7 linked regions of the Homo sapiens genome follow. The protein of the gene in region 1 purifies or fractionates together with the protein of each later gene. This does not show direct contact. Each region holds a gene or a part of one and is shown in the gene's direction. Other genes may lie near its edges. The genes, in order: LYN, HCLS1, ANKRD54, DENND2C, FRS2, GAB2 and OSGEPL1.

The links.
Region 2: the proteins of LYN (region 1) and HCLS1 purify together in Homo sapiens (affinity purification with western blotting; 2 studies listed by BioGRID and IntAct, with this or other methods). This does not show direct contact.
Region 3: the proteins of LYN (region 1) and ANKRD54 purify together in Homo sapiens (affinity purification with mass spectrometry; 3 studies listed by BioGRID and IntAct, with this or other methods). This does not show direct contact.
Region 4: the proteins of LYN (region 1) and DENND2C purify together in Homo sapiens (affinity purification with a luminescence readout, with the first as the bait; one large-scale study listed by BioGRID). This does not show direct contact.
Region 5: the proteins of LYN (region 1) and FRS2 purify together in Homo sapiens (affinity purification with a luminescence readout, with the first as the bait; one large-scale study listed by BioGRID). This does not show direct contact.
Region 6: the proteins of LYN (region 1) and GAB2 purify together in Homo sapiens (affinity purification with western blotting, with the first as the bait; one study listed by BioGRID). This does not show direct contact.
Region 7: the proteins of LYN (region 1) and OSGEPL1 fractionate together in Homo sapiens (co-fractionation; one large-scale study listed by BioGRID). This does not show direct contact.

Annotation. Positions count from the first base shown.
Region 1 is NC_000008.11:55,994,655-55,998,887, forward strand, and holds part of LYN (tyrosine-protein kinase Lyn), read left to right. Parts: intron 1-3,691; coding exon 3,692-3,845; intron 3,846-4,233. UniProt on the Homo sapiens protein: Non-receptor tyrosine-protein kinase that transmits signals from cell surface receptors and plays an important role in the regulation of innate and adaptive immune responses, hematopoiesis, responses to growth factors and cytokines, integrin signaling, but also responses to DNA damage and genotoxic agents.
Region 2 is NC_000003.12:121,636,504-121,640,736, reverse strand, and holds part of HCLS1 (hematopoietic lineage cell-specific protein), read left to right. Parts: intron 1-3,480; coding exon 3,481-3,591; intron 3,592-4,233. UniProt on the Homo sapiens protein: Substrate of the antigen receptor-coupled tyrosine kinase. Plays a role in antigen receptor signaling for both clonal expansion and deletion in lymphoid cells. May also be involved in the regulation of gene expression.
Region 3 is NC_000022.11:37,841,155-37,846,145, reverse strand, and holds the start of ANKRD54 (ankyrin repeat domain-containing protein 54), read left to right. Parts: upstream 1-1,811; 5' UTR 1,812-1,907; coding exon 1,908-2,235; intron 2,236-2,297; exon of another isoform or gene 2,298-2,529; intron 2,530-4,991. UniProt on the Homo sapiens protein: Plays an important role in regulating intracellular signaling events associated with erythroid terminal differentiation.
Region 4 is NC_000001.11:114,663,202-114,667,434, reverse strand, and holds part of DENND2C (DENN domain-containing protein 2C), read left to right. Parts: intron 1-4,233. UniProt on the Homo sapiens protein: Guanine nucleotide exchange factor (GEF) which may activate RAB9A and RAB9B. Promotes the exchange of GDP to GTP, converting inactive GDP-bound Rab proteins into their active GTP-bound form.
Region 5 is NC_000012.12:69,574,484-69,578,716, forward strand, and holds part of FRS2 (fibroblast growth factor receptor substrate 2), read left to right. Parts: coding exon 1-472; 3' UTR 473-4,233. UniProt on the Homo sapiens protein: Adapter protein that links activated FGR and NGF receptors to downstream signaling pathways.
Region 6 is NC_000011.10:78,407,312-78,411,544, reverse strand, and holds part of GAB2 (GRB2-associated-binding protein 2), read left to right. Parts: intron 1-4,233. UniProt on the Homo sapiens protein: Adapter protein which acts downstream of several membrane receptors including cytokine, antigen, hormone, cell matrix and growth factor receptors to regulate multiple signaling pathways.
Region 7 is NC_000002.12:189,759,391-189,764,233, reverse strand, and holds the start of OSGEPL1 (tRNA N6-adenosine threonylcarbamoyltransferase, mitochondrial), read left to right. Parts: upstream 1-1,473; 5' UTR 1,474-1,549; exon of another isoform or gene 1,550-1,702; intron 1,703-2,573; coding exon of another isoform or gene 2,574-2,593; coding exon 2,594-2,814; intron 2,815-2,914; exon of another isoform or gene 2,915-3,107; coding exon of another isoform or gene 3,108-3,136; intron 3,137-4,843. UniProt on the Homo sapiens protein: Required for the formation of a threonylcarbamoyl group on adenosine at position 37 (t(6)A37) in mitochondrial tRNAs that read codons beginning with adenine.

The DNA of each region.
Region 1 (4,233 bases):
GGTTGCTATTGTCAACTGTGGTTTCAGGCCCAATTTGGGACTTCAGCCAGCTTTGGCTTCTTTGGGTTCTTGGCCCAGTTTATATATAATTATTGGAATGTTAGGTAGATAAGTGTCTAAGAGCTAAGAATTTTTAAAGGCTGCACTACCATGGAGTGGAGCCGGGAGGCTGGGACAGAGTCAGCTATGACCGCTCAATTGCTGCTGTCTCATCTGGGCTCCTGTAACCAACTCTGGTCTGTTTGAGCCAGGCATCGTGGTTCTATCGCCAAAAGCCTACTGTGTTATAATCGTACACTCCTTTCTTTCACACATGCTCAGCCTGATCTTCGCTCTCCACTTTTCCCAGTTTTACTGGCTTTTTCTAACAAGTCTTGTTGAACTTGGGTTACCAGCAGACAAAAGGAAACAGAGGCAGGGCTCCTCTCTCCCAGCCGCCACCAAAATTGCCACCCCGTGTCATCTGTTTCAGTAGTGCCCACTCTAGAAGGAGCTATCCTGAACTTCCTGACGCCCTCACCATGCCACTGCCTGCTGTTTCTGGGCAGCAGAGGCTTCCTAGAGAAAGTCAGACTCAGGAGCTCTGCCTTCACCTGGTTATCACCACTGCCCACCTTCTGTTGACTTCCCATCAAGGCTGTTTGAATCTTTTCCAGGGTCAGGTAAAAGCTGTGCATCTCCCCAGTGCTCAGGGTTTGTGACAGTTGGGAGAAAGGCAGGGGACACGAAGTCACTGCTCTCCAAACCTGCCCTGTCCTTTTCCTACTGTCCGTCTGGTTTCTGCTCCACTCAGCCTCTGTCCCACTTCTCAAGTCCCTCATGAAATGAAGCCTCCTGCTGTGCTTAGTGCTGTGCTGTGCTCAGTGCTGGGATGGGTTCATGTTCCTGCAGAAATTGTGGACAGGTAGTCAGGTGAGGAGCAGGGAGCACTGGGGATGCATGCACACCTGGCAGGAGAGGGTATGCCAGGCATGGCTTCCGGGAGAAGTAAAATCTCAGCTGAGACAGGCAAACTGCATAGGTCGGGTGAAAGGGGCAGGGAGGGAATGAGCGTTCCACACAGAGGCAGGGGGTGTAGAAGCACAAAGGAGGGGGTCGTGGTGAGGAGGTGGAGGGCTGAGCCGGGGCCGGGTCATACGGGGCCTTGGCAGCAGTGCAAAGGAGCTTGGACCACATTCTTTGTTTCCACTCGGAAGTGAAATACTGGACTGAATAGTCTTTGAGACTGATGTAGGCCACACTGATTATTTTACTTGAGATTTTTGTGACCATGAGAATATCATCTGCCAAATCCCTGTAGTAGTGGGCTAACAAGATAGTATTCTGGTCATGTGAAAACCCCAGCCCATTTCCCAAAGGACTTACTTTGTCTCTGATAAGAGGTTTGGTGACAAGTTTGAAGGCTCCAATGTATACAAGTGAGAATAGAAAAGATATTTTCAGCCCTAGAGGTGTTTATCAACTGGCTAACATGACACCACTGAGAGCATTAAACAGCATAAAAATAATGACAAAGCTGTGATCAGCAGCTGCAGATGGTTTTTGTACACATTGACCATCTAGGGTGAGTAAAGGGGAGTTCAGGGAAGGCCCACGGGGCAGAAGGTGAGGCCAGGGATTGGCCTAGAGGGGAAGCAAAGGCAGACCCAATACCAAGGAGCTAATCTTTTGCTAAGCAACGTGGTCTGGAACTGGCGGCCTGAAGTGCTTGATTACCAGGGATACTGTTGCAGATGACTGGGGAAAGTCAGATCCTCCAAGCCGAGCCACCTGCAATTCAAGGTAGAATCTGGCAGAATACATTCATTCCTGTGTGAAAAATTCGAATCAGAGTTTTCTCTAACTGCTTACCAGATAAACTACTACTTGGCTTTCTTTACTTCTTGCCCTTTTTCTTGCTTCTTACTTCCCTCCTTTCCTCCTCTCTCCTTGTTTCCTTCCTTCCTTCATTTCCTTGTTCCTTCCTTCTTTCCTTGCTTGCTTTCTTCCATCCTTCCTTCCCTCCTTCCTTTCCTTTCTTCCTTCCTTCTCCTTAACTTTATAATTTGGTAATGTCTTCCTTAAAAACCTGACTTTGGAACGATACTACACTTTCTATTCAGCAACGAGTAGTAGTTTTGCCTCCCTATGTTATTGTTGTGTTTAAATCCTGGATTCTTTCCTGCTGTCATACTTTGTCATGAGAGTGAATCTTGCCGGGCGTGGTGGCTCATGCCTGTAATTTCAGCACTTTGGGAGGCTGAGGTGAGTGGATCACCTGAGGCCAGGAATTTGAGACCAGCCTGATGAAACCCCATCTCTACTAAAAATACAAAAACTAGCATGGTGAAACCCCGTCTGTACTAAAAATACAAAAATTCGCCAGGCATGGTGGTGCGTGCCTGTAATCCCAGCTACTCGGGAGGCTGAGGAAGGAGAATCACTTGAACCTAGGAGGCGGGAGGTTGCAGTGAGCTGAGATCATGCTACTGCACTCCAGCCTGGGGGAGACAGTGAGACTGTCTCAAAAAAAAAAAAAAAAGAGTGAATCTTTGTGATTGTCCTGGAGGGAATGTGCAGAGAGAACTTGGAGAGCCAGTTCCATGGGCTGTTGATTAACCTGACAGAAACGACATCCTGTTCTTGATACCTTAATAATTTATTTGTATTAGCATGTCACTTTCTCCAACTCTATTTTCATAGTTGGTTCAGGCTGCCATAATAAAATTCCATAGACTGGGTGGCTTAAACGAGAGACATTTATTTCCCACAGTTTAGGGGCAAGGAAAGCCCTGGCAGGTTTCATGTCTGATGAGGGGCCATTTCCTGGTTCATAGATGGCACCATATAGCTGTGTCCTCACGTGGTGGAAGGGGCAAGGCAGCTCTCTGGGGTCTCTTTTACAAGGGCACTAATCCCATTCGTGAGGGCTCCACCGTCCTGATCTAATCACCTGCCAAGGCCCTGCCTCCTAATACTATTGCCTCGGGGTTCAGGATTGCAACATTTGAACTTTGGGGTAGGGGGCGGGGAATGGGACACAAACATTCAGACCATAGCATCTGTTTTCTGATTTGAGAAACTGGCATAATAACATCTATGTATCTACATGGATGAATTTAGCAGGGTCTTGAAAAGATTCTTCACACATTAGAAAATGTTAAGACATGGCCAGGCGCGGTGGCTCACGCCTGTAATCCCAGCACTTTGGGAGGCCAAGGCGGGCGGATCACGAGGTCAGGAGATCGAGACCATCCTGGCTAACATGGTGAAACCCCGTCTCTACTAAAAATACAAAAAATTAGCCGGGCATGGTGGTGGGTGCCTGTAGTCCCAGCTACTCGGGAGGCTGAGGCAGGAGAATGGTGTGAACCCAGGAGGTGGAGCTTGCAGTGAGCCAAGATAGCGCCACTGCACTCCGGCCTGGGTGAAAGAGCGAGACTCCGTCTCAAGAAAAAAAAAGAAAATGTTAAGACATGTTCCTTTTTTTTTTTTTAAGATGACCATTGTTGGAGATTTGGCAGAGGGTGGTCAGTTATTTTAGAAAGGGCTCAAATGGTGATTGCCATTACCCACTGTCTTTAAAAGCTGAATGATCAAAATAGTATACATGAAAAGATTTCAGGAATTCATAAGTTTTCCGGTTTTCCTTGATGGCACTTTCCAGTCACCTACCCTACATATGAAAATGGGAGCCTATTTCTGTTTTCAGATTGCAGAGGGAATGGCATACATCGAGCGGAAGAACTACATTCACCGGGACCTGCGAGCAGCTAATGTTCTGGTCTCCGAGTCACTCATGTGCAAAATTGCAGATTTTGGCCTTGCTAGAGTAATTGAAGATAATGAGTACACAGCAAGGGAAGGTATGTTGCACTAATGATCTTTAGATGTTTTATTATTGTGTTTTATTTTGTTTTTGTCTGTTTTTGACAAAGCAATTACAATAGTCACCATTAAGAAAAACTTATTTGGTACAACATTTAAGCTGTACCATAATTGTCTGCTTATGGTTCTATTCTAATAGTTTCTAGAAGGTACTCTCTTGATTAACTCCACATGATACTTTTGTTAGGCTTACAAATGCTATCAGTTGTATTTCAATTAAGCAATGCAAAACACAAATAGATTCAGCAAGATGATTCTTGTTTATTTTGTATTGTTAAAGTTTTCACTCAAACAATGAATATAATATACGGGGCTGTGGAGAAAATATTTGTAACATTAATTCTATATTGTTTATTCCAGCCTTTT
Region 2 (4,233 bases), on another chromosome or scaffold:
CCCAGGCTGGCCTCAAACTCCTGGGCTGAAGTGATCCTTCTGCCTTGGCCTCCCAAAGTGCTGGGATTACAGGCATGAGCCACCACATCAGATATTTTCATTTCTGGAGTTTCTTTTGGTTCTATTGCATATCTGCTGATTCATTTTCCATAAGACATTATGGTTTCATTATGGTTCCCTGTGCCACTTCTTTAAGCTGTTTAATTATTTTAAACATGTACTTTGCAGTTTCTTTCATATTTTATATTATTTGCAGTTCTTGGCTGTGCCATTTCTTCTGACTAATCTGCGTTCCTCATGGTTATTTATTTCCTTGATGGTTTGTAATCTTGTTTATAAACTTATTTTAGTGAAGGAGAGGGATATTTGTTTTATGAGAATTTCATGTGCCCTGGGTTTAGTAAGTACCTCATCCAGGGAAATATTGCCTCTACTTCTGGCTCAACTCTAGAGGTCTTAATAGTAACGGACATTTTTTTTCCTTTATTATTATTTTTTCCCATGGAGTTCAAGTCTTTCTGGTTTTTAAGTTGGTTATGGTATGTTGTGCTTTTCAAGGAATTTGTTCATTTTGTCTGTGTTGTCAGGTTTATTGGCATAAATTCATTTATAATATTCTCTTCTTTTTAACTTCTGTAAGATTTCTAGTGATATGAAATGCCTATTTTCATTTCTGATCTTACTTACTTGTGTTTTTTCTCTTTTTAATTATTCTTACTAGAAGTTTATCAATTTTATTACTCTTTCCAAAGAACAAGCTTTTGGCTTTGCTAATTTTCTCTATTATTTACTTGTTTTAAAAAATGTATTGGTTTCTGCTCTTATCTTTATTATGTTTTTCTTCTACTTAGTATTAATTTAGTTTGTTCTTTTCCTAGCCTCTTAAAGTAGAAACTTAGATAATTGATTTTAAGCCTTCCTTTACTATATGGGCACTTGAAAAGCTATACATTTCCCTCTGAACACTACCTTCATTTGCTACAAACATTTGCTACATTCAACAAATATTTGAATGTGTGTGTTTTAATTTTCATTCATCACAAACCCGTGGTCCCAGCTATTCAGGGGACTAATGTGGGAGGATCACTTGAGCCCAGGAGGTTGAGGCTGCAGCAAGCCATGATTGTGCCACTACATTTTGGCCTGGGCAACAGAGTGAGACCCTGTCTCAAAAAACAACAACAACAACAACAACAACAACAACAAAAAATAAAATCATTCAGTTAAAAATATTTTCTTATTTCCCTTGTAATTTCTTCTTTGACACATGTATTATTTAAAAGCTGTTATTGATTTTCTGAGCATCAGGGAAATTTTCTAGATAATTTTATTGGTATTGACTTCTACTTTAATTCTATTGTGATCAGAATATGATCTCTGATATTTCAGTCTTTTGAAATGTACTGAGACTTACTGTCTTAGAGACTTATGGACTGGCACATGGTCTATTTGGTCAATGTTCTATATGCATGAAAAAAGTATATTCTGTAGTTTGGGGTATAGTGTTGTATAAGAGTCAATTAGGTTTATTAGTTGATAATGTTTGGATCTTCTATAATTTTACTGATTCGTTTTTGCCTAAAATACCTATTAATTAATGAAAGAATGGTGTTAAATGTTCAACTACTATTACAGATTTGTCTATTTCTCTTTCTACTTCTGTCAGCTTTTGCATTATTTGTGTGTGTGTGTGTGTGTGTGTGTGTGTGTGCGTGTGTGTGTGTGTTGGAGTCTTGCGATGTTTCTCAGGCTGGTCTCGAACTCCCGGGCTCAAGTCACCCTCCTGCCTCAGCCTTCTGAGTAGCTGGGACTACAGGCATTCACCACACCTGGTTTTTTACATTTTTCTTTTATTTGAGAGCTTCATGAATTTTGGTTCTGTGAATAGGTTTATGCCAGCATACATACTCCTGATGTAAGGTATTGTTCTTTTATCATTGGAGCATGTCTTTCTTGTCTCTTAGAATGCACTTTGTCTTGAGATCACTTTATCTCATATTCATGCCATCTTTCTTATGCTTACTCTTTCCAAAATGTATATTTTCCTGGATCAGTATTTAGTTAATTTCTCAGCTTAGAATTCCTGCATCACATAAGTGGAAAAAAAATGTGTATTTGCATTCTACACTCAGATGTAGGCTTGGAGTTTCCAAGTCTCATAAGCAAATTTTCCCCCTATCAAATATTGAACAGGTTACAAGCCCCCTTCATGATTTTCCTGAGTAAATGAGTAGAATTTTTCTAGCACTCTCTTATAGGAGTGGACAGAGCTTCGTTTCTGGCTTTCTTCCCTCCTCCCCCATTCTTAAATGGAAATTAGAATCACAGAGCCTCGATCCTAATCCCTATTCATTACATTTGGAATTTAAAATCTGACCAGGTGTGGTAGTTCACACCTGTAATTGCAGCATTTTGGGAGGCTGAGGTGGGTGGGTCCTTTGAGCCCAGGAGTTTAAGGCTAGCCTGGGCAACACAGTGAGATCCTATCACTACAGATTTTTTTTTAAATTAGCAAGTCATGGTGGCACCTGCCTGTGGTCCCAGTTACTCAGGAGGATTGCTTGACCCCAGGAGTTCAAGGTTACAGTGAGCCATGATTGTACTCTGCACTATAGCTTGAGCAAAAGAGCAAGACTCTACCTCTAAAAACAAAAAATCCCCCAAAAATGCCCTTGGGTTTTCTGTGGTGTCAGTTCATAATTATCTTCACACATACAGCTTTGATTCATCTCTTTGTCTCTGGTTTCTGGAGCCAGGATTTTTTCCCTTCCTTTCTGCTGAGCTTCACTTTTTTTTTTTTTGAGATGGAGTCTCGCTCTGTCACCCAGGCTGGAGTGCAATGGTGCAATCTTGGCTCACTGCAACCTCCACCCCCCATGTTCAAGTGACTCTCCTGTCTCAGCCTCCCCAGTAGCTGGGGCTACAGACGCACATCACCATGCCTGGATAATTTTTGTATTTTTTAGTAGAGACAGGGTTTCCCCATTTTGGCCAGGCTGGTCTCAAATTCCTGACCTCAGGTGATCCACCTGCCTCGGCCCCTGAAGTGCTGGGATTACAGGCATGAGCACCGTGCTCGGCCTGAGCTTCACTCTTTAAAACACAATTGTTATGTTTTATCTGACATTTCTATGTGCTTATATGGGAGTAGGGGAAAGGCATACATTTCATGTATCTGCCTTTTTTTTTCTGCAATCTCCTCACTCTCTATACTTTCCCCTTCTTGAAGAAGAAGGGAGAAAATGGGAATGTTCTTCTCATCTTGGCATGGAAATGAGAGAAGAGAGGGAAAAAGTAAGCAATATTCAATTAAAAGACTACTTAAGACATGGCTTCTCTTTAATTCCCCTGTATTCAAGCCCTGCTCTTTTCCCAGGCCCCTAACACTCTGTACCCATTCCTGCTGACCTCTCTTCTCCAGCGCTTCCCTGTGTGCTGGAGCCTAAGGGTGGGCTCTCATGACTGCTCCTTCGACCACAGATTACTCTCGTGGCTTTGGTGGCCGGTACGGGGTGGAGAAGGATAAATGGGACAAAGCAGCTCTGGGATATGACTACAAGGGAGAGACGGAGAAACACGAGTCCCAGAGAGGTGAGTTGGGGTTGGAAGGGGGAAGGTCACAGATAGCACAGGGATCTCCTTCCTTCCTTTCTGGAAGCTCACCCGGGTGCCCCAGAATACAGAGGGGCAGATGTGCAGAGCAGGGGGTGCCAGGGCAGTAAGCACATGTGTGGGGACAGGTGGTGGTAGTGAGGGGAGAGAGGAGAGATGGAGAGGAAAACAGAAGGATTAAGAGCAGGGCCTAGGAGGGAGGTGAGAGAGAAGGGGGCGTTGAGGAAGGAATGAGGACAGACAAGCTGAGTGATGGTCAGAAGATGGTTTGCCATGAGTCTTAGAGGGATCTCTGCTGTCCTCACAGAGGATAAAGAGGTTTACTGCTTCCCTGGAACCCATACGGATGGCTGAAGTGCTCTCTGTATTTTTTCCTATTTCTTTTACATTTTTCCTTATCTGTTGCTTTCTGCTTTCCATGTTTCCCTACTTCCATCTTTGTCTTCTCCATTCGCTCCCAGATTTTTTCCCCATCTGTTTCCCTCTCTTCCCATCCATGCCTCCCTCTATCCTCTGATTCTCACATTTCCTCCTACATTTGTTTTCCACATTCCTGTTTTTCTTCCCACTGATTCTTCTCACCACCCATTCCCAGCATTTTGATCTCCTATAACTCAGAAC
Region 3 (4,991 bases), on another chromosome or scaffold:
TGGAGTGCAGTGGTGCGATCTCGGCTCACCGCAAGCTCTGCCTCCTGGGTTCACGCCATTCTCCTGCCTCAGCCTCCTGAGTAGCTGGGACTAAAGGTGCCCACCACCACACCAGGCTAATTTTTTTGTATTTTTAGTAGAGACGGGGTTTCACCATGTTAGCCAGAATGGTCTCAATCTCCTGACCTCGTGATCTGCCTGCCTCAGCCTCCCAAAATGCTGGGATTACAGGCGTGAGCCACAGCGCCAGGCCTTTTTTTTGTTTTTGTTTCTTTCTGAGATGGAGTCTCGCTCTGTCACCCAGGCTGGAGTGCCATGGTGCGATCTCAGCTCACCGCAACCTCTGCCTCCCAGGTTCAAGCTACTCTCCTGCCTCAGTGTCCTGAATAGCTGGGATTACAGGCGTGCGCCACCACACCCAGCTAATTTTTGTATTTTTAGTAGAAACGAGGTTTCATCATGTTGGCCAGGCTTGTCTTGAACTCCCGACCTTGTCATCTGCCCATTTTGGCCTCCCAAAGTGCTGGGATTACAGGCGTGACCCACCGTGCGGAAAGATTACATTTTAACTGGGTTGAGTGGGAGGGTTTATATATGGAAAGAACTTTTGCCAGGACACAAGACCTGGTCCGGTGAGAGCTGGGCAACTGTGAATGAGTCTCTTCCCTCTGCTTTTCAACTCCTCACCTATAAAATAGGGATGGTCCTTCTTGTCTACTTTATAGAAGTGCTTGTGGGGTACGGGATTGTGAGAAGTTTTATGAAAACGTGCACCCATGAAATGTTGCTTGAGGAACACTTATTTGTTTCCTGGTCTTCTCCCATTGGATTGTGAGCATCTCAGGGGCACCAAGTCTGATCCTGTGTCCAGGACCTAGCAGTTACCTGGCTCAGTGACTGGCTGTCGAACTAAACTATTGCTCTAATGTAATCACTTTGTATTACAAATCTTTGTAGATCAGTCATCTACGTCGGGGTTACCTAGAGAACTCTGACTAAAGGAAATCCATTGCATTTAGACACTATTACTCACAGTTTGTAGTGGTATCTCCAAATTTCAACACATTTTCCCTTTCCCACGTACATTATGCATTTGTGGGAAGTTCTTTTTTTTTTTTTTTTTTGCGTTCATTGATTTACAACATCTATATCTACATGGATGGCGTGGCTTCTTCATTTTCCTTTGTGAGTGCCTGCAAATCATCTTAATCTGATTTGCTAAGGTATCTGCTTGTTTTCTCATTAGACTGGGAAATGGAGAGGAAAAAGAAAAAAAAAGGCCGGGCGCGGTGGCTCACGCCTGTAATCCCAGCACTTTGGGAGGCCGAGGCCGGCACATCTCGAGATCAAGAGATCGAGACCATCCTGGCCAACATGGTGAAACCCCGTCTCTACTAAAAATACAAAAATTAGCTGGGCGTGGTGGCGCGCGCCTGTAGTCCCAGCTACTCGGGAGGCTGAGGCAGGAGAATTGCTTCAAGGAGGCGGAGGTTGCAGTGAGCCGAGATCGCGAGCCTGGCGGCAGAGCGAGACTCCGTCGCAAAAAAAAAGCGTCTGAAATGCTGTTTTACTGGCTCCGGTAGCGACGTACAGCGAAAGCCAAGGTCACTTCAAGTTTGTAATTGGTTACAATGTCTGTCAGTCACGTTGCCGGAAACCCTGTCCAATTATCCTGCTTGTACTGTGCCCTCCCTTTCCGATTGGTTTTGGGACCGGTTTAAGCTGGAAGGGTAGTCATTGGTTCGCCGCTCTGTCTCGGCCTGAGCCCGCCCCCGCTCGGTTGCCGTGGTTGCGGGCCCTGCCCGCCCGCCAGCTCGCTGACAGCACGACTCAGGGCGGAGGGAAGTAGGTCCGTTGGTCGGTCGGGAACGAGGCTCAGGCGGCCAGGCCCGCGCGGAGCCGTTGCCATGGCAGCCGCCGCCGGGGACGCGGACGACGAGCCGCGCTCAGGCCACTCGAGCTCGGAGGGCGAGTGCGCGGTGGCGCCGGAGCCGCTGACTGACGCTGAGGGCCTCTTCTCCTTCGCTGACTTCGGGTCTGCGCTGGGCGGCGGCGGCGCGGGCCTCTCGGGCCGGGCGTCCGGCGGGGCCCAGTCGCCGCTGCGCTACTTGCACGTCCTGTGGCAGCAGGATGCGGAGCCGCGCGACGAGCTGCGCTGCAAGATACCCGCTGGCCGGCTGAGGCGCGCTGCCAGGCCCCACCGGCGGCTCGGGCCCACGGGCAAGGAGGTGCACGGTGAGCGGCGCGAGCGGCGCGGGGGCCCGGGGCGGGGCAGCCCGGGCGAGGGGCGGGGCCTCAGAGGACCAGTGGCCGCGCTTTGGTCGCCCCCGACCCTCAGCCGGGGTCCCCCGACGTCTGCGCTGAGGGCCACACTGACCCTTGAGTCTCCTTTCAGTAACGATGGTGATGATGGTTTTTTTAGAAAGTCTTCCTGCTCTGAGCCAGTCACCCCAGTCTTCTCTCACTGGGTAATTTCTGAATGGAAACTTCCCATGACTCGGAACGCTTATTGGTGAATAATAAAATGAGGTACTGGGGAACACTTTTATTATCATGGAGAGGGGAGGCCAGAGCCTGCAGCCAAGTCGTACCAGCTTGTTTAAATGCACGGACTTGGACTCCTTTACCACAGTTAGACCTTAGGGCAAATGATAGACCCTTTCAACCTTAGTTTTCTTTTTAAATTTTTTTATTTTTATTTATTTATTATTATTATCTTTTTGGAGACGGAGTCTCGCTCTGTTGCCCAGGCTGGAGTGCAGTGGCGCCATCTTGGTTCACTGCAACCTCCGCCCCCCGGGTTCAAGCGATTCTCCTGCCTCAGCCTCCCGAGTAGCTGGGGTTACAGGCGCCCACTACCAAGCCCGGCTAATTATTGTAATTTTAGTAAAGATGGGGTTTCACCATGTTTGCCAGGCTGGTCTCGAACTTCTGATCTCAGGTGATCCACCCACCTCGGCCTCCCAAAGTACTGGCATAACAGGCATGAGCCACTGGCCCGGCCTCAGCCCTAGTTTTCTCATCTGTAAAATGGGATGAGTTAAGTAAGGTAATGGATGTTTAGCTGTTATGCTGCCTTTGCTGTGCCCCAAACACTGCTGATACATGATCATCTGTCCTCACAAGAACTCTTTGAGACATAGAAATTGTTCCCACTTTACTGAAGAGGAAACTGAGGCTCAGAGAAATTGTCTTATTCCAGGTCACATAGCAAGTGGCTGTTGCTGGTATTAGAATCCGGGTCAGCCCGACTCAAACTTCTCCTCTGGTATATCTACCATATTGTCTTCTACAATGCATGGGTGACATGGAAACCCAGGCACTGAGAGATTAAGAATGGGGACTTTGGGGATTTCTTCCAGGACTGGCTATGACTCTAGCCATATTTTAGTGATGTCACGAAGATGAAATAAGAATTTGGAAGCGTTGTATTGACCATAAAGTGCTGTATGAAAGCAAGGAATTGTCATGTATCTGAATTGCAATTTTTGACCATATCTCCGATGACAAAGACATTGCTTTCCATTAGCCATTGGAGGGGGAAAATCTGCTTAGGAAATACCAAATTTAGGCAAATCATTTGGGAACGACCTGCTTTGAAGGAGAATATAAGATTATCTGTGTAACCAGCTCACAAAGAGCTTCTGTGTAAATCATTTGCAATAACTCGGGGCTGGCAGAACAACTCAGCCTTGTTTTGCAGATGATAGACCTGAGGCCCAGCTGGGTTAACTAGCTTGCTCAAGGTCACCCTGTGACTACAAGTGATAGAGAGGAAATCTGGCTCCAAAAGTCTTGGAGGATTTGCAGGAGGATGTGGCCTTTGTACTAGCTCCGCCTCATTTCAAGTTTCTCCTTGTTCCCAGGGCACTGTCTTTCTTTTCTTTTTTTGAGACGAGAGTCTCGCTTTACCACCCAGGCTGCAGTGCAGGTGGTGCAATCTCGGCTCACTGCCTCAGCCTCCCAAGTAGCTGGGACTACAGGCCCGCACCACCACACCCAGCTAGTTTTTGTATTTTTAGTAGAGATGGGGTTTTACCATGTTAGATTGATTTAAGTTAGAACTTAACCTAAGATTGAGAAATATTTTTTCTTTCTTTTTTTTTGAGATGGAGTGTTGCTCTGCCACCCAGGCTGGAGTGCCATGGTGTGATTTTGGGCTCAAGTGATTCTCGTGTCTCAGCCTCCCAAGTAGCTGGGATTACAGGCATGCACCACCACACCCGGCTAATTTTTGTGTTTTTATTTTATTTATTTATTTATTTATTTATTTATTTATTTATTTATTTATTTATTTTGAGACAGAGTCTTGCTCTATTGCCCAGGCTGGAGTGCAGTGGCGCGATCTTGGCTCACTGCAACCTCCGGCTCTCAAGTTCAAGTGATTCTCCTGCCTTAGCCTCCTGAGTAGTTGGGATAACAGGCATGCACCACCATGCCTGGCTAATTTTTGTATTTTTAGTAGAGAAGGGATTTCACCTTATTGGCCAGGCTGGTCTCAAACTCCTGACCTCGTGATCCACCCACCTTGGCCTCTCAAAGTGTTGGGATTACAGGCGTGAGCCACTGTGCCCGGCCTATGTTTTTTGTGTGTGTGTGTGTGTGTGTGTGTGTTTGTGTGAGACAGAGTCTCACTCTGTTGCCCGAGCTGGAGTACAGTGGCACAGTCTTGGCTCACTGCAACCTCTGCCTCCTGGGCTTAAGCGATTCTCCTGCCTGAGCCTCCCAAGTAGCTGGGATTGTAGGCGTGCACCCCCATGCCCAACTAATTTTTTGTATTTTAGTATAGACAAGGTTTCACCATGTTGCCCAGGGTGGTTTCAAACTCCAGAGCACAGGCAATCTGCCCACCTCAGCTTTCCAACGTTCTGGGATTACAGGCGTGAGTCACCACGTATGGCTAGTTTTGTATTTTTAGTAGAGATGGGGTTTCAGCATGTTGGCCAGGCTGGTCTTGAACTCCTGGCCTCAAGTGATCCACCTGCCTTGGC
Region 4 (4,233 bases), on another chromosome or scaffold:
GAAGTTAAAAATATCTGTTCTCAGACTGTAAATTAAGTATTAGATTCAAGAAGAGAAAATGCTTCCCTGTCTTTAAGAAGCTTATAACCCAACATGTAAATAAGGCTCTACAATTTCAGCATGATAAGAGCTGTAAAGAAGTATAGATTTAGGTACGTTTGAAGAGTTGCAAGAAAAAGAAAGAAGTATAGATAGAATTTAACCACTGATGAGGAAAAATCATTCTGCGTGTGGTAGGGAGGACGATTAGAGAGAAGATATTAAATTTGGCTTTGAAGGATGAATAGGAGTTTGCTGAAATTGGGTCAGGAAACAGGAGATATGAATGAAAACCAGGGATAAGTGTGCAAGTATATGGTATGTTTGAGGAATGTGTTGTAGTCCATTGTACTGAAGGCCAGGGTGTGTAGAAATGGGTGGTTTGGCTAAAGGAGATGGTGCCTGGAAATAAGATGAAAAAATAAAATTGCAAAGCTTCCTTGCTGATTGCATTAGGATCACTAAAATTGCTAGGTAATGTGGTATTTCACTTCCCTTCATTTGGAACAATGAAATGAGTAATTAGTTCAGTTTGGCAGAATGTTTCACTAAAAAATATGGTGTTAAAGGTACTTTTAATACTTTGAAGTACAAGATATAAGATAACATTACAGACTTAGGTAAGTAAAAAGTTAAGATTTAGGGCCAGGCGTGGTGGCTCATGCCTGTAATCCCAGCACTCTGGGAGGCCAAGGCAGGTGGATCAAGAGGTCAGGAGATCGGGAGCATCCTGGTCAACATGGCGAAACCCCATCTCTACTAAAATACAAAAATTATACGGGTGTGGTGGCGTGTGCCTGTAATCCCAGCTACTTGGGAGGCTGAGGCAGGAGAATCATTTGAACCAGGGAGTCAGAGGTTGCGGTGAGCTGAGGTCGTGCACCTGCACTCCAGCCTGGCAACAGAGTGAGACTGTCTTTAAAAAAAAAAGTTATGATTCAGAAAAAGAGGGAAAAAAGTCTTCTGATGCTAGGTCTTGAAGAGCCAGAGTATCGTGCTAAGGACTTTGGACTTGATTCTAAAGACAATGGAGAGCCAGTGAAGGATTTTAGATATAGGTGTTTAGGAAAGATAAGCTGAAAATGGTTTGGAGGCTGAATTGGATGAAGAGAGACAAAAGGTAGGGAGATAAGTTAGGAGGCTGTTGCTATTGAAATAGTCCAGATAAGGGAGGATAGGGGCCTGGAGTAGGAAAATAGTAATAGGGATGGAGAGGAGAGGATAGATAGTGAAGGTGTAGAATTTGACAGGGCTTTAAAATCAATTGGCTCAAAAGAGGAACAGAAAAGTAAATGACTTAGTTTTTTAGCTTGGAAAACTGTTTGGATGAAGGGTCTTGTTTTATTTTTTAATATTGGAGGAAGATAATTGTTTCCATTTTGAATTCATGTTGAGTTTGAATTGTCTTTGGAGCATTCAAGTGGAGATGTCGAGAGAGGATCTAGAGTCCAGAAGCCAGGCTAAAATTGGTGATTCAGATTTCAGAGGTAGCCAGTAAGTGTTAATTGAAGCCGTAAGAGCAGATGAAATTGCTCAAGGGAGTATGTAGAATTAGAAGAGAAGAGGGCCAAGAATAAATGATTTGCTTTATGTAAGTAGAAGGAATTATTTATCTATGCTAATTTTGTCCAACAAATTATTATTATAAAGCAATGAAATGGATTTTAATTGAAAGTTGAACAACTTTTACATCCAAATGAGTCCTGTTCTTTTAAAATTTCATTTGGAAGTCACTCATTTATTCCAGAAGTACAGATGCTCCTCAATTTTCGATAGGGTTATGTCTGAATAAACCCATCATAAGTTGAAAATATTGTTAGTCAACATGTGATAAACTTACGAAGGGTTTATCCGAATGTAACCCCATCATAAGTTAAGGAGGGTACTGAGCACATACTGCTTTGGCACCATCATAAAGTTGAAAAATTGTTAATTTAAACCATCATTAAGTCAGGGACTGTCTGTATTGCCCAAAGTATTATTGGAGCTTCTCTTTGTAAAAAGCTTTATAGCAAATTCACAGCTACACAAGAACGTAGATCTTCTGGCTTTATTATGGAATTGTTTTTCTGTCTCTTTATTTGCATGGCACATATAACTTATTTACTTTTTTTTTTTTTTTTTCAAGAGACAGGGTCTTGCTCTGCTACCCTGGCTGGAATACAGTGATGCAATCATAGCTCACTGCAGCCTGGACCTCTTGGGCTCAAGGGATCCTCCTGCTTCAGTCTCCTGAGAAACTAGGACTACAGGCATGCACCACCACCCCCTGCTAATTTTTATTTTTTATTTTATTTTTCTTGAGACAGAGTCTCTCTCTGTTGCCCAGGCTGGAGTGCAGTAGTGTGATCTCAGCTCACTGCAACCTCTGCCTCCCAGGTCCAAGTGATTCTCCTGTCTCAGCCTCCCAAGTAGCTGGGACTACAGGCGCACACCACCATGCCTGGGTAATTTTTTGTATTTTTGGTAGAGATGGGGTTTCACCATATTGATCAGGCTGGTCTCGAACTCCTGACCTCAGGTGATCCACCCGCCTTGGCCTCCCAAAGTGCTGGGATTACAGGTGTGAGCCACCACACCCGGCCTGACCCCCTGCTAATTAAAAAACAATTTTTTTTGCCCAGGCACAGTGGCTCACACCTGTAATCCTAGCACTTTGGGAGGCCAAGGCGGTGGGTCACTTCAGTCAGGAGTTTGAGACCCACCTGGCCAACATGGTGAAACCCCATCTCTACTAAAAACACAGAAATTAGCTGGATGTGGTGGCGCGTGTCTGTAGTCCCAGCTCCTTGGGAGACTGAGGCAGGAGAATCACTTGAACCCAGGAGGTGGAGGTTGCAGTGAGCTGAGATTGTGCCATTGTACTCCAGCCTGAGAGACAAGAGCGAAACTCTCCATCTCAAAAAAATTTAAATAAATAAATAAATACATAAATTTTTTTCTTTTGTAGAGATGGGGTTTCACTGTGTTGCCCATTCTGATCTTAAACTTCTGGGCCTAAGCACTCCTTCTGCCTCAGCCTATCCAAGTGTTAGGATTACAGGCATGAGCCACTGTGCCCAGCTTCCGTTCACAATCAATCAAAGCTTCGAAAGCATATTCCTATCCCATCACTGGATCTTTAGTTCTTGGAAGTCATAGACAAAGCTTAAAAAACAACAAAAGACTGTGTCCCCATGCCTATAATCAGCACGTTGGGAGGCCAAGATGGGAAGATCACTTGAGCCCAGGAGTTCTAGACCAGCCTGAGCAACATAAGGAGACCTCGTCTCTACAAAAAATTTTAAAAAATTAGCTGGCATGGTGGCACATGCCTGTGGTCCCAGCCGCTTGGGAGGCTGAGGTGGGAGAATTGCTAGAACCCGGGAGGCAGAGATTGCAGTTAGCCAAGATCGTGCCATTGCACTCCAGCTTGGGTGACAAGACAAAAAAAAAAAAAAAAAAGAATAGCAGTATGGTCTTCTAAGGCAGGGGTTAGCAAATATTCTGTAAAGGGCTAGATAGCAAATATTAATATTTTGTACTTTGTGTGCCATACGGTCTCTGTCATAACTACCCAATTCTGCCAAAAAGCAGCCATAGACAACGCTTCAATGAATAAGCATGGACTGTGTTCCAATAAAACTTTATTTATGGACACTGAAATTTGAATTTCATATAATTTTCACATCACAAAATGTTATACTTATTTGATCTTTCCACCCAACCATTAAAAAATGTAAAAACCACTCTTAACTCAGAGGCCTTGCAAAAACAGGCAGTGGGCCAAATTTGGCCCACAGGTAGGCCATAGTCTGCCAACCTTAACGGATCTTTGAAATATTTGAATTCGTAAGCTTGGTTTAGAAAAAAAAAATCATGGTTCTTCGAAATCATACCTCCTGTTTTTAAATTCTAGTACATTTCTTAAAATAATTAAAACATTTTCATTCATCCCCCATTTCTCATTTAAATGGAAAATACTCCCTTTACTGGTTTGGAACTTTAGATACAGAGAAATAGATTAACTTGTACAGAGTCAGAATAAAAAAGTATGTTTGAAAAATGTTTTTTGATATTCAGTGTTCTTTACTGAATCAATAAAACATTGATCTTTTCGCTTCAGTGAAAGTGGGGACATTGAAACCTGGGTGAAATAAAAGATAAATTTGAAGGGGTATTCTGCACTGGTTCCCAGAGGGTTGGACAGGATGG
Region 5 (4,233 bases), on another chromosome or scaffold:
ACCATCTTTGCCTCCTGTTTGGGAAGCCCGCAAGCTAAGTAGGGATGAAGATGACAATTTAGGACCAAAGACCCCATCTCTAAATGGCTACCATAATAATCTAGATCCAATGCATAACTATGTAAATACAGAGAATGTAACAGTGCCAGCAAGTGCTCACAAAATAGAATATTCAAGGCGTCGGGACTGTACACCAACAGTCTTTAACTTTGATATCAGACGCCCAAGTTTAGAACACAGGCAGCTTAATTACATACAGGTTGACTTGGAAGGTGGCAGTGACTCTGACAACCCTCAGACTCCAAAAACGCCTACAACTCCCCTTCCACAAACCCCTACCAGGCGCACAGAGCTGTATGCCGTGATAGACATCGAGAGAACTGCTGCTATGTCAAATTTGCAGAAAGCACTGCCACGAGATGATGGTACATCTAGGAAAACTAGACACAATAGTACTGATCTGCCCATGTGAGCCTGGAAAGCATTGTGTTGTTTGCACCTTTGTGAAGTTTTTAAAAATGAAGATGCAAGTGCTTCATTTTCATTTCTAAACACTAACTCCTTTTATAGACTGATAAAATTTTTTTCTGAATATTTCATGTGCATCTTTAACTAAAGGGAATTAATGTAGAGCAGGTACTCCTTAAAGAACACTAATTTCATTATATACTACTCGTTGTACAGCAGCATTCCCGTTTTCACAGTGCCTATTTAAAATGAGAGTTGAAGTAAATGACATGCTGGTTGATTTTTATCAATATTCTGGACTTAACGCATACCTTTCATGTCTAAGTCATGGTTGGCTTTTAAAACTTTTTATAAAGCCTCTTGACAATGTACATTGCTAACAGGTAACTATAGGCTTTGAAAGTAATGCTCGTAGATTCAGTGTTCACAGTATGTGGCCTCCAGCATGTAACATGAGGAATCCTTTATTTCATTAATTAATGGCTTTTTGACTTGAGCCAAAACATATGTAAAGGAAACAGAAGTACCGCACCTCCTCTTACACCAGTCAGCTCCTTTGCCTTCAGTGTTACTAGAAAGCGGCCTGTGTCCATGAGTGTGCTTTGCTGTTGGTGCACTGAAAGGCAGGAAGGAGACAAGATTTTCTATTTACTCATCTCATGATGTCATTTGAAGGGCATGTCCAGATATCTTAAAATTATAATAGGCTCAAGAATCAGTCTCAGGTCACTTTACCCAAAAACATTTGAAAATCTGAACCACAATCTCCTGAAAGTTTTTCTCCTATAGATTGTTGACAACACATTGTTTTCTGGAGGCATTTGTGCCATTAGGTTTCCATTTATCTTCAGTTTTTTTCTTTGGTGTTTGGGATGTCTTATTTTGTTGCCTTATGTCCTTTTCAATTTAAAATGTTTGAGTTTGTATATAGTTTTGAAATTGGATTATGTGTTCATTGTTGTTTAGTTTGCATTTTTGTCAAATTATGGTTTTGAAGGTTCATTTGGAACTTACTGTTAGTCTGTAACAGGGTTGCCCTTGTCCAGTATTTATTTATAAGCTGTTTACTTTTCAAGTTGATAAAAACATTCTCCAATTCTAAATTTGCTTGTGTCCATAGGTGATCTCTTTAGCAAACTGAGAAAAAAAGGAAGCTACTTTTAACATGCAAAGTTCCCTCAAGGTGTACCGTGTTGTCTCTGTGGGCACTCTTCCCCAGCACTTTAGCAGTAATTCCCCCAGCTACACGCTGCAGTTGTACTCTGCCCACTCTAGTGTTCCTCAGCTCTGCTGTCCTTTTACTTGTAGCTGGATCTTTGATTATCCTTCGATTTCCATGAAATATTAATATTGTTGCCAGCATAGCAGGTACAGTGGAAGTCTTGTAGCAGTGAGATTGTATCATAATTTAGGATTTAAAATGAATTAAAGTTTATATAAACTGAAGAGTCTCCATATGTCAAACTCTTGGAAAATCAAAGATGTTCCAATTTCCTAAACACTAGAGAATACGAGAGAAGGTAGAGTGGAAAAGGTTAGGTAACCTTGCAAAATATTTTACTATTTTCTCTAAATATGAGGAAGTTTGAGATTATGATCTGGATCTACCAGATATAACTAAGGTTAATTTAGCATGAAAAAGTTTTAGTCATATTGGCATCCAACCTATTCAGTAACCGAATCATAGGACAATGATGGATTAGGAGAACAATAGAGTGGGATCATTATAAAGAAAATAAATTATTAAAGGTGTCTTTATCGTTTTAGTGCCATTTTTAGTGTCTTTACTATAAATCAATATCAGTGTATTTTATCATTCTATGTGCATAGCAGAATTTTCTTTTCTCCCTTTTGTTCCCCTGTGAACTTGGTGCTTATTAAAGTGCTCACTGTTCTCTTAAAAGAGAGCAGTGGTATAGGTGTGCAGTTTCCATGATGCAGGTTCCATTTTTAATATATTGTTCCACTTATCCTTTCTTCTGAGTAAATTGCTAATTGTGCCAAATTTATGTAATAGTTTTTGTAATGTGGAATAAGAATTATGATGGAACCATTGCACATTTTTTTCTGAAACAGCCAGTCAAGGCAGAACATTAATCTCCAAATGCAAGGGCTGATCTATTTATTCATTTTGGAGGTTGGGTACTTTATTCTTTCTTTCCGTCATCCTTTTCATTGTTTCCCCCGGATTCTAATTAGTTTTTATTTTTTTTAGATAACTCCAATATAATCATTACAGTTTATGCTTTAAATACTATGTGCTTTAAAAAGGAAAATGGGACCAATTTGTCTGCTAAGAATTTGATTTTAGGTACTATAAGAGTATTAGGAAAATATATACAACTGGTGTTAATTTCTAGATATTTTCTAGAAATCACTTGTGTTCCTATTTAATAAAAGGTAATTTAGAATACTACTTGTCCTTTGCAGTAGTTTAGTAATGGGCATTAAGCTGTGTCCTCGAAGGATGTACCTATTACTAGGTGCATTTTAGAATGAAATATTGATATTTTATTAGCATATAATTGTGGCCATATATCTCAGATTTTCTGAGGCAGATCTAATTTTAGATAATTCTGTTGGTAGACCATGTGATCCTTCTTTTTGGTTTTGGAAATATAATCATTGTTAATGTTTTCCCTCCAAATAGAATACTGTTTTATCCATACAAATCATAACAGCATCTATCCCATGCTAGGGTTGGAAACTGATATTGGTATTACTTGTGTTTTTTCTTAGTGTGTTTTATTTCCCAGTTTCATCTTCTTCTAAAAATGAAAATATGGTGCCTTCCCTCCCTCCAGGAAGACTGGCAAATATTTCCTTTTATTTACTGCTGCTGTGGAGTGATGAGATATGCACTTTACTCTTTAAGATTCAGCAAAAAGCTTTTCACTTCTCAGTATATCCAGAATACATCATATCTGGGACTTAGGAAAATTTGCCAAGCAATCTTTGTTTTTATAGATACTAATGTTGACCCTCTCCAGCGTTCAATGTTATAAATAGAACAAGTCAAGCTAGTGTTTATCTCCTCCCCCTCCCCAAAACTGTGGCACAGCATATAAAAATGTACCTCAATAATGTTCTATTAAAAATGGGACAGGGGCCTTATGTTTTCATAATTTCCCAACAATGTGCCGCCATATTTTTGCCTCAAGGTAAAGGTTTTAACAGATGAAAAAGTACTTCCCAATTCCCCCGTGCTATTCCTAACCTATAATGCCCAAATGTTTTGTGCAATGTGTAGTGTGTGTGTATAAATACATATATTCTTGAAATAGACATACCATCAGAGACATCATTCACAAGTAACTGATGTATTGGCATCTCATTCATATTTCTGATGTGTGAGGTATATGGTACTAATTACCTTTTCCTTGATGTTTGCCAAATTTGAATAAAGGCATTGGTACGAAATTACAGAATGTAAAGAAAATGTTTTTGGCTTGAAAAATTAACATATTTTATGACGTACCACAGTATACTCTGCCCAAACCAGCACCCTATCTATCTTTCCTGTTCTTTACATCCCTGTTCCCCATCCCTACTTCCTCATTTTTGGTATAACACAGTTCTTTTGTAGCATCATTATAATTGCAGTTCTATGGCAATTGGACAGTTATAGCATGGAAACAGACTGGTATAAGTAGTACAGTAGTCACCAGTGTGCCACATTTGCATTAGTAATGCAAAATATACATTTTATAAAGGACAAACTTTGTGTTATGTTTTATTTTCATTACATTGTATAATATTGTAAGA
Region 6 (4,233 bases), on another chromosome or scaffold:
CTGTTTCTGTTGTCTCTGTTTTGGTCCATTTTTCCATGTGTCTGTCCCTCTGCAAATACCATAGAATCTTGCCAACTCTAGCTATATTGTAAGTCTTGAAATCTGGTAGCCTGATTCCTCTACTTTATTCTTATTTTTCAAAGTGTTTTAGCTATTCTATTATCTTTACCTTTCAATACAAATTTTAGAATAATCTTGTTTATGCAAAAAAAAGAAAGTCTTGCTGAGATTTTAATAGGAAGTGCATTAATCCTGTGTACCAATTTGGGAAGAAATTACAGCTTTACTATATTAAATCTTCCAGTCCATGAATTTATTTTACATTTATTTATATATGTCTTTCTTCCTTCGTTTATTTTCTTCTCCTTCCACCATCCCCCCCCCCAACCACCCCCACCAGAATCTTGCTGTGTCACACAGGCTGGCGACAGTGGCACAATCATGGCTCACTGCAGCCTCAAATTCCTGGGCTCAGGTGATCCTACTGTCTCAGCCTCCCAAGTAATTGGGACGACAGCTGCGTACTGCTGTGCCTGGCTAATTTTTTTTTTTATTATTTGTAGAGACAGGGTCTCCCTGCGTTGCCCAGGCTGGTCTCACACTCCGGAGCTTAAGCAGTCCTCCCACCTTGGCTTCCCAGAGTGCTGCGATTATAGGTGTGAACCACCATGTCTAGCCTTCTGGAAGAGATGGTGTAGAACTGGTATAATTCTTTAAACCTTTGGTAGAATTCTCCAGATTAAACCATCTGGATCTGGAAATGTCTTTGTTAGGAATTTTTTACATTTTTAATCCAATTTCTTTAATAGATACGGGGTTCTTCAAATTATCTACTTCATATTGGCTGAATTATAGAAGTTTACATTTTTCAACAAATTGGTCCATTTTGTCTAAGTTGTTACATACATGTGAGTGGAGTTACAGTATCCTGTATTATGCTTTCAGTGTCTGCAGGGTCTGTAGTGGGTCCACTGCTTTATTTTTTTAACCCTTATTCTTGCATACTGACATTGCTTCATTATTATTTTTTGTTTGTTTTTTGAGACAGCATGTCACTCTGTCACCTGGGGTGGAGTGCAATGGCACGATCTCAGCTCACTACAACCTCCACCTCCCAGGTTCCAGCAGTTCTCCTGCCTCAGCCTCCCGAGCAGCTGGGATTGCAGGCATGTGCCACAATGCCCAGCTGATTTTTGTATTTTTAGTAGAGACAGGGTTTCACCATATTGGCCAGGCTGGTCTCAAACTCCTGACCTTAAGTGATCTGCCTGCTTTGGCCTCCCAAAGTGCTGCAATTACAGGCATGAGCCGCTGCACCTGGCCTCTGATTTTTTTATATAGTAGTTTATTCATTTGAGACTTTTCCTCTTATTTAATGTATTCATTTACTGCTATGAATTTCCCTCTCAGCACTGCTTTAGCTGTGTCCCACTAATTTTGATAAATTGCATTTTCAATTTTTATTTGCTCAGTATATATATATTTTTTTTACTTTCCTTGAGACTTTCCTCTTTGACCATGGATTATTTACAAGTACATTGTTTAGTTTCCAAATGTTTGGAGATTTTCCCATTATTTTTCTGTTTCTGTCTTTTAGTTGGAATTCATTGTGGGAGTAGAGTAAGTTCTATTTGATTTCAATTATTTTTAACTTGTCAAGGTTTATTTTATTGCTGAAAATGTGGTCTATCTTGCTTTAGGTTCCATGGGTACTTTGAAAAGAATGTTTATTCTGCTATTATTGGGTAAAGTATTCCATAAATGTCAATTATATCTTTTTGATTGATAGTGATATATATAATTCTTTTATATCCTTGCTGATTTTTCTATCTAGTTCTTCTGTCGATTGTTGAGAGACAGGGGTTGAAGTTTCCAACTATAATTGTGAATATTTCTGTTTCTCATTTCACTTATATCTGTTTTTGTTTCACATATTTTATTTTTTTTATTATTTTTTTGGAGATGGAGTTCCGCTGTTGTTGCCCAGGCTGGAGGTGCAATAGCATGATCTCAGCTCTCCGCAACCTCCACCTCCTGGGTGCAAGCAATTCTCCTGCCTCAGCCTCCCAAGTAGTTGGGATTACAGGCATGCGCCACCACACCCGGCTAATTTTGTATTTTTAATAGAGACAGGGTTTCTCCATGTTGGCCAGACTGGTCTCGAACTCCTGACCTCAGGTCATCCGCCTGCCTCGGCCTCCCAAAGTGCTGGGATTACAGACATGAGCCACCGCACCCAGCCCTGTTGTTCAATATATACACATTTAGAATTGCAACATCTTCTTGGTGGCATGACCCTTTTATCTTTATATAATACCTGCTGAGTCTCTGGTAATTTCTTTTGCTCTGAGGTCTACTTGTTATCTGATATATTATACAAGTATCTGAGGGCTACTTGATATATTATAGCCTATATCTGATGATATAGTTATTCTTGCTTTCCTTTTATTGATATTCACATGATACATCTTTTCCATCAATTTACTTTCAACCTACCCATATCATTGTATTTGAAGTGATATCTTATAGGTGGCATATTGTTGGGGTGTATTAATCCGTTCTCGCACTGCTGTAAAGAACTACCTGAGACTGGGTAATTTATCAAGAAAAGAGGTTTAATTGGCCCACAGTTCCACAAGCTGTACAGGAAGCATGGCTGGGGAGGCCTCAGGAAACTTACAGTCATGGCGGAAGGTGAGGGAGAAGCAGGCACATCTTACATGGCTGGAGCAGGAGGAAGAGAGTGAGGGGAGAGGTACTACACACTTCTAAATAACCAGATCTCACAATAACTCACTCACTATCATGAGAACAGCACCAAAGGGGAACTCCACCTCCATAATCCAATCATTTCCCATCAGGCCCCACCTCCAATATTTGGGGATGACAATTTGACCTCAGATTTGGGCAGGGACACATACCCAAACCATATCATGGGGCATGTTTTTAATCCACTGTGCTGATTTATGTCTTAATTGGTATATTTAAATTTACACTTAATATAATTTCTAATATGCTAGAGCTTAGTTCTGCCACTTTATTTTTTGTTTGTGTTCTGTTTTTGTTTTCTTCTTGCCTTCCTGTGAGTTTCTTGAATATTTTTTAGAATTCCATTTTGATTTATCTATATAGTGTTTTTGAGTGTATCTCTCTATACAGCTTTTTTAGTGGTTGCTCTAGGTATTATACTGTACATACAACAGTCAGTTGGTGTCGTCTTATAATCTAAATGAAGTCTGTATCATCATTTTACAAGTTTAAGTAAAGTATAGTAACCTTACCTCCCTTTATGTCCTTTTGCCATCCTCCATATATAATTGTCTTAAATATTTTTTTTATATCAGACAGTGCTATAATTTTTGCTTCAGTCATTAAACCTAATTTAGAAAACTCAGAAGGAAAGACTATTTAATTACATTTTTGTTTACTATGTGCTTTCTTCTTTGCTGATGTTTTCAGGTTCCTCTTTTTTTCATTTCCTTTCTGTTTAGAGAACTTCCTTTAGCCATTCTTTAGGGTAGATTGGCCAGTGATAAATTGTCTTTATTTTCCTTCACCTGAGAAGGTCTCATTTTCCCCTTCATTCTGATATTTTCACTGGATATTGAATTATTTAGTTGACACTTCTTTTCTTTGAGCACCTGTAAAATACTGCATCCTTTCCTTCTGGCCTGCATGGTTTCTAATGAAAAATCCATGGTCTTTCCAATTGCTTTCCCTCAGGAGGTAAAATGCCCTCTTTTTCTTTCTTTTCTTTTCTTTCTTTCTTTCTCTCTCTTTCTTTCTTTCTTTCTTTTTCTTTCTTTCTTTCTTTCTTTCTTTTTGGGACGGAAAATGCCATCTCTTTCTTTCTTTCTTTCTTTCTTTCTTTCTTTCTTTCTTTCTTACTTTCTTTCTTTCTTTCTTTCTTTGAGAAGGAGTTTCACTCTTGTCACCCAGGCTGGAATGCAATGGCACTATCTGGGCTCACTGCAATGTCTGCGTCCCAGGTTCAATAGATTCTCCTGCCTCAGCCTCCCTAGTAGCTGAGATTACAGGCGCTCACCACCACGCCCAGCTAATTTTTTTGTATTTTTGGTAGAGACAGGGTTTCACTATGTTGGCCAGGCTGGTCTTGAACTCCTGACCTCAGGTGATCCACCCAACTCAGCCTCCCAAAGTGCTGGGATTACAGGAGTGAGCCACCACGACCAGCTCCCATCTTTTTCTCTGGATGCGTTCAATGATTTTTTT
Region 7 (4,843 bases), on another chromosome or scaffold:
TGACCTCTCTAACCGTATGACTAATTTTTCTTAACTTTTAGGTTTTAATTTTTCTTTTTTCCCTTGTTTAGGCCAACAGTGCACCCTAGAGAAAATGTGAGTTATTTTCTCTTCTAGCAGTTAAGAAAACAGACTCCAGTGCCAGATGTCCTGACTTCTAATCCTAGCTTTGCTTTTCCTAGTTGTGTGACCTCCAAAGCACCCAAACTCTGTGGCCCAGTTGCCTGTAAAATGAGGACAGAAACTATTTCATGGGATTTTGAAAGAAATTAATCTACAGCAGGTGCCTGGTACATAGTGCCACTTTATCATTATTGTTACACATAAATGAAATTTTTGAAAAACATAAGTTCCAAATAAAAAACCTCAACCATATTCTGGTAATTATTTACTTATTTATCTGTATCCACCTCTAGACTGTACTCTGTGGCTTCCCAACATGTTGTTATGGGATTTACTCATCTTTTATACCCAGAGCTTCACAACGTGCAAAGTGCAGGTATATATGCCAGCCCTGTACAACAGTGGATTCTAAGGTCCTTGCTTACTAAAATCTTAAATACCAGCAGGGGAAAAGCCTGACTCTTGGAATAAATCTGTCCAATGTTCAAAACAAAGTTCACAAACCAATAAAAGAAAAAAAAAAAAAAAAGCAGGTGCAAGACTTTGAAAACATACCATGCTGAATTTCATGTACATAGTAAGGAAGGACAACATAATGCATTATGAAAATAGGATGGTTTAAGGCAACTGAATATTTACCACAGCCTTTTTTTTTTTTTTTTTTTTTTTTTTGAGACAGAGTCTCGCTCTGTAGCTCAGGCTGGAGTGCAGTGGCGCGATCTCGGCTCACTGCTACCTCCGCCTCCCGGGTCCCAGTTCAAGCAGTTCTCCTGCCTCAGTCTCCCGATTTTTTTTTTTTTTAATTGTAAAAATAAGCCAGCCCCTTTCTTCCTAGTGAAGTGGGAGAAACGGTTTACACTGTCCGATGAGAAACACTTCCGTTCTTTGGTAACCCTGCTAGGGGGCGCCGCTAGATTCCATCCTATTTCTCCGATGAAAGTATCAGGTACCTCACCCCTAAGTTTAGATTTGATGATAGTTCCCTTAAAAATGAATGACGAATAATCTACCCCATCCTTTTCTCACAGTAGCAACCAAATTCCAGCCAAGGGCAAAAAAAAAATTTCTTTTTAATGTAGCTTAGTGTTTGGAACTTGATGTTGTGTAGTCAGACAAACCTGTATTCGGCCTCCGCTGGATCAGTCACTAGCTGTGTAATTTTACAGAACTCTCATCACCTGCAAATCTGGGGGAAATGCAGGTGCGCACAGAGAGCGTTTTGGGCAAAGACGGCCTTTAAGCTTTTCTTCACTAAGCATGCCGCTCGCTAGCGGAACAGCAGCCAGCTCTGGACGGGACCTTGCACAGTTCCGATGACATCACTTCCGGGCGCCAGGTTCGGGCTTTCTCCTGCAGCGATAAGGGCAGTCGACAGTCTTTAGTAGGGAAAGGAGACAAGTGCTAGCTACTGCCGCCCAAGTGGAAGGTGGGTGAAATTGCTCACTCTTCACCCCACTGACGCTTTTGCGCACCTGGAAAAGCGGTTCCAGTTTGCGCCCGTCGCCGCCTTACAGCCGACAGGAGACCAGCGCTACCCAAGTCACGTGGGTTCAGCCTGCAGCTTTCTTGGCCCGAAAGGGTAGTGCTTCGTACAATCCTCCTTGTCCAGATTTTGTTAATGCAAATCTAATTCCTCTAGGTTGTGTCTGTCTGGGCTGCACTGCCCGCAACTGCCTTCTGCAAATAGGTCGCTCATCTCTAATCCCTGGGATGCCGTGTCCCTTTAGTGTGGTGGAGAAAGGCCCTGCTTTAACACCCAGAAAGTTTTAGAACGGATGATCTGGGGGCATAAAATTAGGTGCTTCGCAGTGTGAAAATACTAGTGTGCTTTAGTGATGGGCTGCTATTATTTTGGGGGAAAAGGATTTGGGAAGATCCTTGTTATGACAAAACCTGTAGCAAAAAGTGGAGATTTAATTCCAAAGATTGCAATTAAGGATAAAATAGGTGTTAGGTTGCAGTTGGCGTGTGTGTGTTTATGTTAACTCTTGTTTTTGAACCAAATGATCCAGTTTTATTTTGAAAGATGTTTTTAGGAGATGGAATACATTAACAGTATTTTTATCTGTTCCATCTGCCTTTGTTGTTTGATTCTTTTTAGAAAATCCACATTTTGTCTTAATTTTAGCTGTCAAAAAATAAATAGCACTTTTCAGAGGACTCTATCAATTATTGTACTTTATATTAGCTGTCTTAATAGTAAGTCTTTTGGTAGGAACAGCATGCAAGTAATAATAATACTAAAAAATTTTATATCTGACCCCTGTTTTCCCCCTTGGAGAACATTATATTCATTCATAATATTATTTATATTCCCATGTTGCTATAGCCTTTACAAACTTTTGGTGACTTTTACAAACTTTCCTGTAATTCTGTAAAACTATATATTGAAAAATAAGCTGGCTAATGTCAGTTGCAAATAATAAGTTGTTTCTGTAATTCTTTTTCAGGAATTATCTATAGAGTAAGTATGCTAATCTTGACTAAGACTGCAGGAGTTTTTTTTAAACCATCAAAAAGGAAAGTTTATGAATTTTTAAGAAGTTTTAATTTTCATCCTGGAACACTATTTCTTCATAAAATAGTATTGGGAATTGAAACTAGTTGTGATGATACAGCAGCTGCTGTGGTGGATGAAACTGGAAATGTGTTGGGAGAAGCAATACATTCCCAAACTGAAGTTCATTTAAAGTAAGTAGACATTATCTTAGTCATTTCCACTTTTTTGGAAAAAGTAAAATCATTCTTTTGTATTTGTCATATATAAAAGTTTTCAGGAGCTACTGTCTTATTCCTTTTTGCAAACACTTTTAATAACTGCTATAGAAAACCTCAAACACTTCATCCTGGCTTTTAAGGGTCTTCACAATAAGGTCCCAACCTTAACTAATCCTGTTGCCAAAAGAAACTGAGCTCATTCCCAGCTTCCGTATTTATTGATTTTCCTTCAGTAATGCATTCCTTCTTTTCTCCACTTCTATGTTTCATGGTCTCAGCTGAAGTCCTAGGAAAACTGTTAGTCATTGAAAAAAAAAATCCTATTCATATTTATACATATAACTTGTATTAGTACTTAAATAATAATACACTGTTGTATTAAAGCATAGAATGGTGCAAGGATTATAAACTGTGATGTTTATAGAGGACTACCAGGCAGGTTACCTAAATAAATGGACAAGATAAAAAGTGGAAAATGTCTGGAGGAGGTCACTACTCAGCTCTAGCCAGTTGTCATGTGGGAATGCAGGACCTGTGTTATTAGATTATTATAATTTTCAAGGGAAAATGGAAATCCAGATTTTTTTTTTCTTTTTTTTTGGTGAGACAGAGTCTCACTCTGTCACCAGGCTGGAGTGCAGTGGCATGATCTCGGCTCACTGCAATCTCCGCCTCTCGAGTTCAAACGATTCCCCTGTCTCAGCCTCCCAAGTAGCTGGGATTACAGGCACGTGCCACCACGCCCAGCTGATTTTTTGCATTTTAGTAGAGACGGGGTTTCACCATGTTGGCCAGGATGGTCTCAATCTCCTGACCTCTTGATCCACCTACCTCGGCCTCCCAAAGTGCAGGGATTACAGGCGTGAGACACCGCGCCGGGCTGGAAATCCAGATTGTTAATGTATTTGCAGATTTTTTACATTAGTAGCTAATTTAGAATATATTAAAATACTCTTGGGAGGTGGGGGGCGCCCCCGCCCAGCAGCCGCCCCGTCTGGGAGGTGGGGGCGCCTCTGCCCGGCAGCCGCCCCGTCTTAGGGGTGGGGGCCCCTCCGCCTGGCCGCCACCTCTGGGAAGTGAGGAGCCCCTCTGCCCGGCTGCCACCCCGTCTGGGAGGTGTACCCAACAGTTCATTGAGAACGGGCCATGATGACAATGGCGGTTTTGTCGAATAGAAAAGGGGGAAATGTGGGGAAAAGAAAGAGAGATCAGATTGTTAATATGTCTGTGTAGAAAGAAGTAGACATAGGAGACTCCATTTTGTTCTATACTAAGAAAAATCCTTCTGCCTTGGGATGCTGTTGATCTATAACCTTACCCCCAACCCCGTGCTCTCTGAAACATGTGCTGTGTCAACTCAGGGTTAAATGGATTAAGGGCGGTGCAAGATGTGCTTTGTTAGACAGATGCTTGAAGGCAGCATACTCGTTAAGAGTCATCACCACTCCCTAATCTCAAGTACCCAGGGACATAAACACTGCAGAAGGCCGCAGAGTCCTCTGCCTAGGAAAACCAGAGACCTTTGTTCACATGTTTATCTGCTGACCTTCTCTCCACTATTGTCCTATGGCCCTGCCAAATCCCCCTCTCCGAGAAACACCCAAGAATGATCAATAAATACTAAAAAAATAAATAAATAAATAAATAAGAATAAAATACTCTACAGATGAGTATACCTTTAAGCTATCAATTTACAACATCTGAATAGTGAAAAAGCCTGGTATTTTGGAATCACAGTCCTGTATTTGAATCCTGAATTAAGCACTTGGTATTGGCTCTGTAACTGTAGGCAAGTTCCATATCCTCTCTGATTCTGTTTTCACATCAGTAAAATAGGAAAATTGGCTGGGCGCTGTGGCTCACGCCTGTAATCGCATCACTTTGGGAGGCCGAGGCAAGTGGACCATGAGGTCAGGAGATTGAGACCATCCTGGCTAACATGGTGAAACCCCATCTCTACTAAAAATACAAAAAAAATTAGCCAGGCGTGGTGGCGGACGCC